Homo sapiens: one gene and its partner. The protein of the gene in region 2 interacts with the protein of the main gene of each other region in a pairwise test. Each region holds a gene or a part of one and is shown on either strand. Other genes may lie near its edges. The genes, in order: RHBDD2 and GAL3ST3.

The links.
Region 1: the proteins of GAL3ST3 (region 2) and RHBDD2 interact in binary tests that used the Homo sapiens proteins (3 or more experiments, as listed by UniProt).

Annotation. Positions count from the first base shown.
Region 1 is NC_000007.14:75,874,284-75,882,294, reverse strand, and holds the start of RHBDD2 (rhomboid domain-containing protein 2), read right to left. Parts: upstream 3,262-8,011; 5' UTR 3,213-3,261; coding exon 3,035-3,212; intron 2,050-3,034; exon of another isoform or gene 1,980-2,049; intron 931-1,979; exon of another isoform or gene 805-930; intron 467-804; coding exon 59-466; intron 1-58.
Region 2 is NC_000011.10:66,039,719-66,046,476, forward strand, and holds the end of GAL3ST3 (galactose-3-O-sulfotransferase 3), read right to left. Parts: intron 5,810-6,758; 5' UTR 5,698-5,809; coding exon 5,573-5,697; intron 4,200-5,572; exon of another isoform or gene 4,151-4,199; coding exon of another isoform or gene 3,960-4,150; coding exon 2,789-3,959; 3' UTR 1,047-2,788; downstream 1-1,046. UniProt on the Homo sapiens protein: Transfers a sulfate to position 3 of non-reducing beta-galactosyl residues in N-glycans and core2-branched O-glycans. Has high activity towards Gal-beta-1,4-GlcNAc, Gal-beta-1,4(Fuc-alpha-1,3)GlcNAc and lower activity towards Gal-beta-1,3(Fuc-alpha-1,4)GlcNAc.

The DNA of each region.
Region 1 (8,011 bases), on a different chromosome or scaffold from region 2:
CCAGCCTGGTTCACCCTTTGACATGCGTTGTTCTATAGCTCTCTGCTAGGAAGGATACAGGCCAGCCCGATGGACAGCCCGCAGACATTACTGAGGAAAGAGGTCTGGGGAATGAGCCACGAGGCACCCAGCAGGAGCCACGGAACCAGGACTGAGGGCACAACCATGCCAAACACCAGGGCCCGCCTCATCCGAGAACGGACGGTGGTGACTCCCAGCATGGCAAAGGCCACTGGGGTGAAACCTCTGGCATCCTCCACTTCCCCCAGCTTTGACAGTGATGACACAGCCTCGAATGACAGGAAGATGATAGCGGAGAAGATGGCGAAGATCACGGTGAAGAAGCAGTGGCGGACGGTGCCCACGGTTCTCTCGAAATTGCCAGCAAAGCGCCAGATGATGATAGCGCCGCAGAGCAGGGAGATGGGATTCTCGTAGACAAAGATGTAGGTTACCAGCCTGTAAACTGCAGAGGGAGTCGGGTTAGAGGCCTGGCGGCGGGTTGCTCCCAGGAGGGAAGCCAGGTTATAAGCCGCCTAGGAAAGGCAGAGAGCCCCCCTCCGTGACAGAGAAGTGAGAGCCAGTGAGTCGCAGCAGGAGGCAATACAAGCAGTGCGTTCAACAATGAAGGACCCAGAGCCTCAAAGGAGAGGCATGAATATCTAATCCCTACACTTCCCCAGGCCTGGTGCAACTCTTAGCGGTAACTGACTTCCAGAGGGAAAAAAATAATACTTTTCGGTAGAGGGCAGTCTCTGAATTTGTAAAGTGCTTTATAATCCTTTTTCAGGTTTTCATACTGACCTACCTCACTGGGCAGTTTGAGGGTTAATTAAGTGTAACAGCTTCGGGGTGGATTGAGTGGGTGTCACTTAACACTCTGTGTGCCAGTCTCCTCTGCTGTAATCCTGACCCCTCCTTCCATAGTGGCTGTTCAGAGGAAGAAAAAAGGGACCATGAATTATTTTGCAGCTGTAAGAATTATAACACTATCATTAACAATAAAGATTATAGAAATTATAAGTCTCCTCAGAAAGTGCTTATCCGATCTCACAGGTAAACTGATGCTTTATATGTAATAAGACATCAAAGAATCCTCCTTTTCCTTTTTTTAAATTTTTATTTGTAGAGACAAAGTCTTGCTACGTTGCCCAGGCTAGCCTTGAACTCCTGGCCTCCAGTGATCCTCCTGCCTTGAATTCCCAAAGTGCTGAAACTACACATACGAACCATCATTCCTGGCCTTTTATTTTTCTAAAAGCAGTTATCGCCAGGCATGGTGGCTCACACCTGTAATCCCAGCATTTTGGGAGGCTTAGGTGGAAGGATCACTTGAGCCCAGGAGTTCAAGACCAGCCTAGGTAACATAGTGAGACCCCCGTCTTTAAAAAAAATTTAAAAATTAGTCAGGTGTGATGATGTGTACTTGTAGTCCCAGCTACTTGGGAGGCTGAGGCAGGAGGCTCGCTTGATTCCAGGAGTTGAACGCTGCAGTGAGCTATGATTGCATCTCTGCACTCCAGCCTGGGTAAGACGAAGACCCTATCTCTAAAAAAATTTTAGAAGTGGTTATCTCTTAAGTATTTTTATGTCCCTGCATGCCCAAATACGACTAAACTCAAGGAGAGAGACCAAAGAACTGATGGTAATATTGGACTTGGGAGTCTAAAGACTTGGAGTGGAATCTTGGCTCTATTACATCCAGGCTGGCTGAGTTTAATCATGTCACAGGTCCTCTAGGCGTCAGTTTCCTCACTGTAAAGTAACAAGAGTTAGATTGAGGACTTCAAAGGTCCCTTACGTCTCTAACGCTCACATATCCACGAAACCCACACCCAGGGAAGCAGTGAACCCCAGAAAGTGGGAGGTTAAGGTTAGGTTGGCATTTTGCTTCTGTCTGTGAGGTGGTGCTATGTATACCTAGGGTGGGGGGAACAGTTTTAGATTGGAGTGGGGAAGCAGGCTATGGAACCATATACCTCAGTCTGGCCATCACCAGAGGCTTCATTATCTGAAGAGTACTTCATTATTTGTTGAGTATTTCCAAAACTGAAATTCCAAGTATAAACATGAAAAGATTCTAGAAGCAACTGTACATGATTTGGAGATTATCTACCCGAAGGCTCTAGTTCCAAAACATCACAGAATAAAAAAAAAAATATAGATTCCTATCTCAATTGCATGACGCAACAGCTCTGCGATTCTCTGCATGAAACCTCAATCTTATCTAGATAACGGGCCAATAACAGGTCCTACGTCATGGGATCCTTGTGAGGGTTAAACGAAATTAATACATATCAGTGTGTGTGCTTTGCAAAACAGCAGGAGATATGCAAATTTCCTGTGTTCCTCTCGAGAAAATGAGGAAGACACGGAGACTAGGAATGTCTTTCAGGAATGGATGTTTATACTTAATTGGTCTGCAAAATTTCTCTCCCCTAGAGAAAAACAAACACTTCTCTCCAAAGGCAGAAGACACCCTGGTACCCCCATGAGCTGGGAATGGCAGTCAAGATTAAGATACAGATGAAAAAGCAGAAGAAATTCCAAATCTCAAGAGGGCAGGACGTTTATAGGGCTTATAGGGGTTTGTGGATAAAGTCCAATTGTCGTGATGTAGGTGAGAGAAAAACGTTTTTCAGTGGGGCTTAGGCCTAAAGCAGACGTAGGTGTGTATGTGAAATGGGAGGGGGAGACGAAAAATCTTTACCCTTGGAGAGCGAGCATGGATTTGCTAGCGAATGGATTTGGGGCCTTAACCAGTCTGGTGGCGACAGGGAAGGGAACAAATTCGGGTAGGGAAGGGATTACAGTGATGACGAAGATGGGGTCTGCAGACAAAGGTGTGGAACACGGAGAGCAAGAGACGGTGCTGGAGGTCGGTCCTCCGGGGGGCGGGCATGGTGATGAGGACCGAGACAGGGGGAGACTGGCGGTGAGGCCTGAAGGGGCGAGTCCCGGAGGCTAGAGCCCAGGAACCGGCAAAGTCGGAGGACAAGGACTCGCCCCGCGATCCCGGCCCGCCCCTGCTCACCTTGCCAGTTGCGAAGGGCCTCGGACTTCAGCGTGAGGCCCGAGGGCGCCAGGGGCTGCTGCAGCAGGAACAGGCGAGGCCCGGAAACCAGCAGCGAGAGCAGCGCAGTGAAGAAGGTGGCGGATGGCACCTCGGGACACAAGCACCAGCTGCGACACCCGGGCCCCGAGGCCGCCATGGCCGCCGTCGTTCCCGCGCCCCGCCTCGACGCCGGCTGCCGGTCCTCTGCTCCTTCCGCCTCCTCGCGGCAGTTTCCCTTGGCAACAGCAGAGGAGCCGGCCGGAGGCCACGCCTCCCAGAGGCCCCGCCCCATGCCAAGTTGTCCAATCCGGTAGCGCCGATCAGCCCCCCCCCCCCCCCCCCCCGTGCGTGGGAGGCCGGGACGGGGGGAGGGGGGTCGGGGCCACTTCCGGGTAGGAATGTTCCAGCACCGTGTTTGATTCCATCCTACTCGGGCTGGTACTGAAACTGCTCCTATAAACTTTAGGAAATTAATCAGGGAAGAAGGGAGGGGGAAAAACGAAAATAAACGAAGCTTGCAGCACACTCTGCGTTCATCACTAGGTCACCTTGCTCTCCGACCTGCTTGCTCATAGCTCTGTGTATCAGCTATGATAGGTGCCCATCGTCTGTCCTAGAATCACGTAGACCCTGTCACAAGATTACAATTCCCCTTAACTCCATAGATAACAACTTGAACATTATGAAACGTTTTCCCTTGGAGATATTCTTTCAGGTCCCGCATACCAGCATAATTACTGACACCAGTTGTTCTGAAGGAGCCCACAGAAGCAAGACTCAATGGGGACTGCAGTTTCCATATCCTGAGGATTTCAACCCCCTTACCCTGACCAGTCGATGACCCCAATTTTCCAGCCCCTCACCCTTCACAATGCCCTTTAAAATCCCAGCCCGGAACTCCTTGGGGAAGATGGATTTGTTGGTCTCCCTGCGTCTCCTCCTAGGCACCCTGCCATCTTTAAACCCTTTTTCTGCTGATAACCCTGCTTCCTCAGTGTAACTGGTCTGTTATTGCACAGCGGGCCTAGGCACCTGTTGGTCCTGTAATAATACCTCATGATTATTATGCCTTACAGCTCACAGAACTCTTTCATATCACGATCTTCCCATCTGTATTCATCCCTATTACACCAAAGAGGAAACAGGACTAGGGAGGGCCCTGGGTAATTCAGTTACATGGCAAAGACAGAATTAGAACTCAGTTCCTCCTGCTATGGCCCGGAATTGGCCTCCAGTACAGCCAGGGGCAGCTTTATCTTCATATTGAAGAAAAGGGGCAGGAGGCTGGGCACGGTGGCTCACGCCTGCAATCCCAGCACTTTGGGAGGCCGAGGCGGGCGGATCACGAGGTCAAGAATTAGAGACCAGCCTGGCCAACATGGTGAAACCCCGTCTCTAATAAAACTACAAAAATTAACCCGGCATGGTGGCGCGTGCCTGTAATCCCAGCTACTCCGGAGGCTGAGGCAGGAGAATCGCTTGAACCCAGGAGGCGGAGGTTGCAGCAAGCCGAGATCGCACCACTGCGCTCCAGCCTGGGTGACAGAGCAAGACTGTATCTCGGAAAAAAAAAAAAGGAAAAGGGACAGGAAACGGGAGAGGGATTCAATGGAAGGGACTCAAAAGTTAGGGATGTAATAGAACACTCATAACCGAGATCTATTTCAGCACTTTACAGTTTGAAAAGTGCTTTTGCTGGAGAACAGCTGTTTAAGGTAGACCTTCCTTTTTTTTTGACAAGAGTCTCACTCTGTCACCCAGGCTGGAGTGCAGTGGCGTGATCTCTGCTCACTGCCACCTCTGCCACCCAGATGCAAGTGATTCTTGTGCCTCAGCCTCCCGAGTCCCAAGTAGCTGGGACTACAGGTGTGCATCACCACGCCCAGCTAATTTTTGCATTTTTAGTAGATATGGGATTTCACCACATTGGCCAGGCTGGTCTCGAACTCCTGACCTCAGGTGATAAGCCTGCCTTGACCTCTCAAAGTCCTGGAATTACAGACATGAGCCACTGTGCCCAGCAGTACCTTCAAGGGTACTACCTTTTTCGCTTTCTCCAGTGACCCTGCCCAGTACTCCCTCCCCTCACATGGTAGAAGTATTTGGCTCCTTCCCCACACACCCACCCTAGTGTTATCAGCTCCTTGCCCTTGGCTGCAGGCTTTGGTTTGACTCAGCTGTAACTGCTGCCCCCCATAGCTTAGAAGCTCCTGCTGGCTCTGAAGGAAGGAGGCTAAATTTTGGGGCTTGTGTGTCCTGCTTCAGTAGCACAATCATAGCTCACTGCAGCCTTGACCTCCCGGGCTCATGGTATCCTCCTGCCTCAGCCTCCCAAGTAGCTGGAACCACAGGTGCGTGCTACCGCACCTAGCTAGCTGCTTCTTTTTTGTAGAGATGGGATCTTGCTCTGTTGCCCAGGCTGGTCTTGAACTCCTGGGCTTAGGCAATCGTCCCGCCTTGGCCTCCCAAAGTGCTGGGATGACAGGTGTGAGCCACCATGCCTAGCCTGTTGTGTGCTTTTTATGTAGTTACTCATTACATTTTCACAACCCTTGTGAGGCTGGTTCTGTAATTACGCCCGTTTTACAGATGAAGCAATGGAGATACAGAGAAGTTAAGTAACTTAAAATTAGGCAACAAGTCTTCCAGGAATTTTTTTTTTTTTTTTTTGAGACGAAGTCTTGCTCTGTCACCCAGGCTGGAGTGCAGTGCTGTAATGTCTGTTCACTGTAACCTCCTCCTCCCTGGTTCAAGCAGTTCGCTGCCTCAGCCTCCTGAGGCACTTCCCATATTATACTATCATTGCATATTTGTGCCCGTAATTGTGAGCTTACCAAGGGCAGAAGCCATGTCTGATTTATACCTGTGTCTGTATCCACAGCCCTGGCACCTAGCACACAGTGGGGCCACAGAAAATGTTCAATGCAAAGTTATTAGCCCTGATGCCTTTGGGATGTGACCTACTTCCCTTCCTTGTCTCTTGTCCAGAAGCCGAGGGTTCTCACGTAATTGAGACCCCTGGGGACTGTTATAACAACAGCCACCATCCCGAATGCATTTCACACTGAATTTCTGGCAAGAATTTCAAGATATTTTTTGAAGAGGAGACCTGAGGTACACCAGTCTAGGATGGCATGGCCAGTCAGCCCACCTAGCTCTCTGTAGAAAGAGTTTTCTGCATTTGCTGTGCAGAGGGTTTAGGCTCGGAGAGGGCAGTTGCAGGAGATATTCACGTTTCCCTTAAGGGAAACCTAGGATTGCAGGTGTGAGACACTGCACTTTTTTTTTTTTTTTTTGAGACTGAGTTTCGCTTTTGTTCCCCAGGTTGGAGTGCAATGGTGTGATCTTGGCTCACCGCAACCTCCGCCTCCCCGGTTCAAGCGATTCTCCTGACTCAGCGTCCCGAGTAGCTAGGATTACAGGCATGCGCTAGCATGCCCGGTTAATTTTGCATTTTTAGCAGAAACGGGGTTTCACCATGATGGTCAGGCTGGTCTCGAACTCCCGATCTCAGGTGATCCGCCTGAGATCTCAGCCTCCCAAAATGCTGGGATTACAGGCTTGAGCCACCACGCCCAGCCCACTGGGCCTTTTTGTTGTTGTTGTTTGTACAGACAGAGGTCTCACTATGTTGCCCAGGCTGGTCTCAAACTCTTGGGCTCAAGTGATCCTCGTGCCTGGGCCTCCCAAAGTGTTGGGATTCCAGGCATGAGCCAAGCCAAAAACCAGGAGATAAATACCATGTTATACTGGCCATTTCCTTTAATGTTCCCTTAAAGGAGACATTAATGGCTCCTACATTAGCATTTGAGAAGCAGCCAGTGTGGAGCTGGTGGAGCTCAGGCTGGAAGTCAGGAGGAAGCAGGACCTCACCCTGGCTCTTTCACTCGCTGCCTGAGTGATCTTGGGTAAGGGAGCCTCAGTTTCCTCATCTATAAAATGGGAACTAAGTCTTATCTTGCAGGGTTTTGATGAAGAAAACAGATAAGATTGACCGAGGGACGAATAGGATGTGAGGAGGTCACACTGTGAGTTAGTGGAAGAGCTAGGATTTGAACTTGGGTCATTAGATCTCTAAAGTTGTTCTATTTCTTTTTATTTTTTTGAGACAGAGTCTTACTCTGTCGCCCAGGCTGGAGTGCAGTGGCGTGATCTTGGCTCACTGCAACCTCCACCTCCCAGGTTCAAGTGATTCTCCTGCCTTAGCCTCCCCAGTAGCTGGGATTACAGGCACATGCCACCACGCCCTGCTAATTTTTGTATTTTTAGTAGAGACAGGGTTTCGCCATGTTGGCCAGGCTGCTCTCAAACTCCTGGCCTCAAGTGATCCATCTGCCTTGGCCTCCCAAAGTGCTGGGATTATAGGCGTGCGCCACTGCACCTGGCCAAGTTGTTCTATTTCTTTTTTTTTTTTGAGACGGAGTCTCGCTCTGTCGCCCAGGCTGGAGTGCAGTGGTGCGACCTTGGCTCACTACAAACTCTACCTTCCGAGTTCACGCCATTCTCCTGCCTCAGCCTCCCGAGTAGCTGGGACTACAGGCGCCCGCCACCACGTCTGGCTAATTTTTTTGTATTTTCAGTAAAGACGGGGTTTCACCATGTTAGCCAGGATGGTCTCGATCTCCTGACCTCATGATCCACCTGCCTTGGCCTTCCAAAGTGCTGGGATTACAGGCGTGAGCCCCTGTGCCCAGCCAGGTTGTTCTATTTCTACCACTACACACATCTCTACCATGGCAAGTATAACACGGTATTTACTTCCTGGTTTTTGGCCAGTCACAGCAGCTCACGCCTGTCATCCCAGCACTTTGGGAGGCCCAGGCAGGAGGATCACTTGAGCCCAAGAGTTTGAGACCAGCCTGGGCAACATAGTGAGACCCCTGTCTGTACAAACAAACAAACAAACAAACAAACAAACAAAAAAGAAAGGCTGGGTGCAGTGGCTCACACCTGTCA
Region 2 (6,758 bases):
GATTTGCCCTTGCCCCTGAGTCAAACAGAGCACCCTCTCCTAGTGCCTGATGATTCCATTTGCCCCTGATTCCAGATTTTTCTGAGGCCAGAGTTGTGCTCTCTGCTGAAGCAGGGCAAGGTTTTTAAAGGAGGGCCCGCCTGCCTGAGGGCCAGGGAGGCCAGGGGAGGCCTATTGCAGTGGTTTGGCTGTTTGTCCCTTAAACCTCATGTTGACATTTGATCCCCAATGTTGGAGGTGGGCCTAATTGGGGGAGGTGTTTGGCTCATGGGTATGGATTCCTCATGAAAAGATTAATGCCCTTCCTGGGGGATAAGTGAGTTTTTTCACTCTTAGTTCCAAGAGCTGGTTGTTAAAAAGACCTGGCACCTCCTCTGACCCCCTTGCTTCCTCTCTCACCCTGTGGTCTCTGCATACTTGGGCTCCCGAGCGGAAGCAGCCTGAGACCCTCGCCAGATACAGATACCAATCCTGAACTTTCTAGTCATCAGGATTGAGTCAAATAAACCTTTTTCTTTACCCAGCCTCAGTCACTCCTTTATGGCAACACATAATGAACTAGGACACTTATCAAAGTAGACTTGGCCGGGCATGGTGGCTCACGCCTGTAATCCCAGCACTTTAGGAGGCCAAGGTGGGCAGATCACCTGAGGTCAGGAGTTTGAGACCAGCCTGTCCAACATGGCCAATCCCCGTCTCTACTAAAAATACAAAAATTAGCCAGGCGTGGTGGTAGACACCTGTAATCCCAGCTACTTAGGAGGCTGAGGCAGGAGAATCACTTGAACCCAGGAGGTGGAGGTTGCAGTGAGCCGAGATTGCACCACTGCACTCCAGACTGGGTGACAGAGTGAGACTGTCTAGAAAAAAAAAAAGTAGACTTAAAGGCACGTCTGAATTTTCCAGGCCAACTGAGGGCAAGGTGAAGGATTTTCCTGGCAGAGGTATGACCAGAGGCTAGGGCTGGGGGTGCAGATGGAGACAATGGCAAGCACCTTATTGGCTGGGGGCCAGAGGACACCTGTTTTTGGATAGATCACTTTGAGTCTGGTACAATTCTTTACTGCTGCTTAATGTCAGAAACTTAATTATGCTTTTGCATGATTCTAATTATTGCCTTTTTCAGAGCTCTGCTGGTAAAAAGTGGGGTGCCATACAAACAGTCCCTTTTCAAGCCCAGCGTGTCATGCATCCTGCCAATCAATCACTGTAATGTCCATTGTCCAAACAGGTCAACCGTTGTCTCCATGAAAAACTGGATAAAGAGTTGCTGATAGCAGTGTCCTGGTTCTTCCCTTTACATTCTTTTGGGGGAAGGTGCTGGGAATCAGCCTAGCTTGTGGCATGTGACCTTTTTTATTTGAATGGCACTACAGACAGCACTTGTGAGCACAAACTCTGAAGCCACACTGCCTTGGTTGAGATCCTAGTGGCCACTTTCTGGCTGTGTGACCCTGACTTAATTTCCCCCAAGTTTCAGTTCCCTCACCTGGAAAACGGCACCCATCTCCAAAGTTAACATACATAAAGCCCTTAAACAGTGGCTGGCACACCGTAGACCATAATAGCTATTGTTTTTTATCACTTGTCCAGATACGTCGATATAGCTCTGAAGAAAGTAACAGAAAAAGTTCCAATTCTCTGCTAGTCTTAAGGGAGATTTCACCTGGAAGTGCTGGCTATCTTGCTGTGTTAAAGGAAACTGCAGAAAGGGACTGGTCTTCATCTGAGTCCAAGTTGTCTTCTTGTGAGGAAAGCAGGCCATTAGTGAAGTCAGTGATTCACAGGAGGAGGTCAAATTCTGAGTTAGGCAGCTCCTTATCTGAAAATGATCCTCCTTCCACCCAAAGAGGTGTTGTGCTCTAACCCCTCCAGTCCTTCCTCTTTGCTTACCTGTCTTGCTCCTGTTCCAATGTTTCCCCATAAGCTCCATGAAAATAAGGCCCTATCTATCTGGTTCACCTGTATCCCCAAGTTACAGAGATGATGCTCAGTAAATGTCGCAGAATTTTGTGAAAAAGAACGATGTGGAAAGTGAGTGGGGCTAAGGTGGCCAGTCTGTGTTGGGGGCCCAGTCGGTCAAGCGGTTGAGGAGGGTTGTAGGCCTATGCCAGGTGGCGGGGGACCTTGAGTCCAGGCCCCCATCCTCATGGGTCCAGCCACAGCTCCTCCTGGGCATCCGTTTCATCCTCAAATGTGGGGAATCCGGCTTCTATGACTGACATACAACTCGCACATTTTAAAGATGTTTTATTAAAAAAAAGAAAAACCAACCAAACAAAAATCCCAACCCAAGAACTCTTGGTTCTGGGAGACTGGGAGCAGCTTAGGTCTGTGGGGAGGGTAGAACCTGGAAGACAGAAAAGTATAGGGAGCCTCAAGCCCTGGGAGGGAGAGCAAGAGCAGCCTTTCCCTAGGGCTGAGCCTCTCTCCATGGGGCCTGGGCTTATCCACTTGGAAAAGACAGGTTGTGGGGGCTCAGCCCCCAGAAAAAGGCAGGGTGAGCAGTTCTGGACAGCCCTCAGGCCTCTTGTCAAAATCACCAACCAGCTGGGAAGGAGAGGGTGGCCCAGCGCTGGATCCAGCCTATCAGCGCCGTGCCCGAAGGCAAGGTTCAGCCCACGATCGGGAGCGGGGGCTCAGATAGGGAGGCGTACCCCAAAGTTCAGCGAGGGACTCAAGCCCCTTGAAAAGAAAGGGCTCTCATGGGGGCAGGACATGGAGGCAGCCCCTGGCTGGACTCCTGGGAGGGCAGGGCAGGACCCATACTCCTGGAGGCCTGCGGAGCTCAGGGACCTTGAGGGCCGCGAGGCAGCACTCGGATGGGCCGAGGCGGGGGATTGTCCAGGACGGGCTCGGGCCGAGCCCGCGCACCGCCCCGGCGCTTCTGCTTGCGCAACAGGTAGTTCGAGTACTGGACCTCGGGCATGGCCAGCTTGAGGCAGGCCTCGGTGGCCGGGCCGGCGCCGCCGCCGGGCAGGTCATAGCCCATAATGTCCACCTTGCGGCTGGGCTGCCACGGCTGCAGCTGCTTGGTGCGGATCTGCGCGGCAGGCCGCAGCAGTGGCTCGTCCCCGAAGCAGCGCCGCAGTAGGCGCTGGCGGGCCTCGCGCAGCTCGCGCGCCTCGCGCTCCACGCACGCGCGGCCCGCGCGCGCCACGTGGCGCCAGAAGGTGGCGTTGAAGTGGTCGTAGAGGCCGGCGTCCAGGGCGTTCCAGGTGCGCGCCGCCCGCGCCAGCGCCGCGGGGATGGCGGCCAGGCGCGAGCTGGCGGCGCGCGCGTTGAGCTTGGCGTAGAGCACGTCGTCCAGGTCCCAGGCCAGTAGGCGCCGCAGCAGCACTAGCGACTCGTCGAAGTACTCGGCGATCATGACGAGCGAGAAAACCTCCTCCACCTGGCGGATGAGGCCCGCCAGGTAGGCGGCGTCGTCGCGCGGGCTGCGCTCATTGTCGCCGCCCAGGTCGTAGGCCAGCGTGTTGTGTGCGAACATGGCGAAGTGCTCGCCAGCGCGGTAGTATGCCTCGGGCGCGCGCAGGAAGGCCTCGAGCGAGGCGTTGGGTACGCGCCGGAAGGCCGGGCAGTACTGGTTGTAGTAGCTGAAGAGCGACTCGAACATGGCGGCCGGCTCGCGCAGGATGGTGACATAGACGGTGCTGGGCGGCATGAGGCGCTCCAGCTCCGCACGGTCGAAGCGCAGGTGGCTGGCCAGCACGTGCGGCGGCCGCGTGGCCGGGTGCACGAAGTGCGCCGAGAAGTTGCGGGGGTAGCAGAACTGGTGCTCGCAGCTCGGGTGCGGCAGGGCCACCGTCAGGTTGTGGCGCTCGGCAAAGCGAAACAGGATGTTCTGCACCGTCGTGCCTGCCGTCTTGTGAGTCTTCAGGAAGGCCACAGTCATGTGCTTGGGGCGCGGCGGCGAGTTCCGCAGAGGAGGGCAGCTCAAGGGGAACAGCTTGGGGTACCTGCCAGGCCCAGGGAGTGTGCGGAGAGGAGGGTGTGAGGGGGCTGCCGCTTGACCCCTGCCCTTACCCAAGGACTGTGGGATGCCCCACAGCGCGGCCCCGCCTGGGCTGCACTCATGGAAAGGTCGAGGGCGGTGCTTGGTAGCCTCTAAGATGCCCTCTATGATCCCTGCTGCCCTCCTGGTATTCATGCCCTTGAGTATTCCCCTCACCTGAGTTAGGCTGGACTTATCATTGCATCTAAAGAAGAGAAGAGGGCAGAAATGATGGGATGTCACTTCTTAAATTTCATCATAGAAAGACTGTGGCTGGCTAGTATCTTGGTGTCTTTCACTCAATCTGGGATGACAGATGATGGGGGAAGCAAGCTGCCATATAGTGGGCAGCCCTATAGGGAGCTACCACTAAGTGGGAAAAGCCCACAAGGACCTAAGGCCCTCAGTCCACCAGCCGGCTTGAAGACCTGAAGCCTGTCAAAACCACGTGAGTGAGCTTGGAAGCTGATCCCTTCCAATCAAGCCTTCGGATGAGACTGCATCACCAGCAAACACCTTGGTTGCAACCCCATGAAAGACCTTGGTCCAGAAGTTCCCAGTAAGCCACACCTGGCTTCCTGACCCAAAATAACAGATGTTTGTGTTTTCAGCTGCTAAGCTTTAAGATAATTTGTTTATGTAGAAATAAATAAGGGACAAAGACCCCTGGAGATCTTTGAGGAATCCCACTTTGTATATGTAGAAACTGAGGGCCAAAAGGAGAACAATCACTTACACAAAGTCTGGAGACGACTCACATGGTCACTAAATCCTTTTGCTCTTTCTCATTTTTACTCTTTAACTGGCTCCTCACTTTGTAGATGGTTGGCACTGGGCTTTGCAGCAACCCATTGTTATGTTTCTCTTGAGGCTTCTAAAGCCTCATTAATTCAGTCATCAAATATTTTTTGGGTGTCCACTATGTGCCAGGTTAATGCTAGGTTCAAGAAATACAGTAATATACAAAAACAATCCTAGCCCTCGTGAAGCTTTCATTTCTGTTGCTTCATTCTTAAAACATGGGTGTTTGGGATTTCAAACCAAATTATCTGGCAAGGGGGGCTGGGCGCATTCACACCATTCTCAGGGGCAGACAGTGTAGAAAATGGGGACATGAAGTCTCCGAGAGGTGCAGGGATTTGTTGGGTTCACACAGTGAGTCAGGAGTAGGGTTGGGGTTCCCATGAATCACATGGTATCCTGTGTGAGGGTGACTGGCTGTGTCACACATATCATGTCTCACTTTATAGATGAGAAAACGGGGGCTCGGAGAAGTGAGGGGACTTGGCCTTGCCCAGCACTACGGAAGTTGTGAGAAGTTGTTTCCACTGGGGAAATGCTTAGCTGCATGCTGTGGGGAGTTGAGCTGGATTCGGATCTCAGCTAACTGATTCTGTAACTTTGAGCAAGTCACTCAGCCCTTTCATTGAAGAGCAGTCCCTGTCCAGGGAGGCTGTGTGGCCCTAAAGGGAAAGCACTTTCAGAATAGAGGGGAGGAGCAAAGCCTAGCAGGACCCTTCTAGCAGGTGGAAGAATGGGGAGGGGAGCTCCGGCCCCCCTGGGGCCCCGCCCCCTTACCAGCTGAGCTGCGCCCCCTGGTGGATGAGAAGGCTTACGGTGCTGCACCCTAGCACCAGCAGCAGGATTTTCCGGCGGCTCATCATCTTGGTGGCCTGCTGCAGGCGCTGGAGGATGGGTGGCATGGCGGAGTACCCACCCCTGGACCAGCCAGGGCCTCACTATCCAGGACTCCCTTCACAGGCACTCATGGGGGATCCTGCGGCTCTGGTAGCAGGGCCAGTGTTCCCGAGAAGCCTGGCAGAAGAAGGCAGACGGGTTTGCAGTGGGCAGAGGAGATGGGATCTGGCCCCCAGCAGGTCTGATGCAAAGAGCTCCAACAGGTGGGGTAAGCAGAGAGGCCAGGGCAGATCGGATTCCTACCTCCCGTTATCAAGACCCTATCTCCTCACTGCTCCAGATAACTTAGTCTTGGGTGGAATTACAGGGTCTGGGGTGTAGCCAGCCCTTCAGGCTGTAGCCACTCCCATCCCTCAGCCCTGTCTCTGTCTCTCTGCCTGCTCCTAACTCGTCTTTGTCTCATGGTTATTTGTACATGTCTCCCCAGTGGAGTGGCTTTAGCGCCAGGGCTTGGCTCAGAACATAGAGGTCTCAACTCAAAGTTTCCTCTCCTCCAGGACTCCTTGCCCAATTGCTTTAGCCCAGGGTTGGTCCTGACTCCCCAGAGAAACCGAGCTCCTCGGAAACACTGATCAGGCCTTCACCTCCTTGGATCGATATGGCTTTGAGTCGATACTGCAGGCTTACTCTATGTACTGTATTATTACATACTTAATCCCATTTAGTCCTCACCACAGCCCTGACCTAGGTATTATTCCCACTGTATAGATAAGGAAACTGAGGCTCTAAGAGATTATATCACTTGTCCATAGCTACACAGCTGGTAACAGTAGAAATGAGATTCATACCTGCTGTTTCTGGCTCCAAAGTCCATGCCCTTAGACACTGTATATGCTATTTCTGTAGAGAACTGGTTTCCCCAACCTTGCCCTAGACTCTGGCAATTCTGCATCCTTCTGAGTCCTGAGCGCTCCTAGCTGGGCTCCTGCCCTGAGGGCCCAAGACTGAGAAATTCATGAGGGAAAGGAAGGTCTTGAAATCCTGGAGCCCTATCTGGATTCCATCCCCAGACACCTGAAACCCAGGCGGCCCCATCAGCTGACTCTGCAGGGAAAAGTGCCTGACC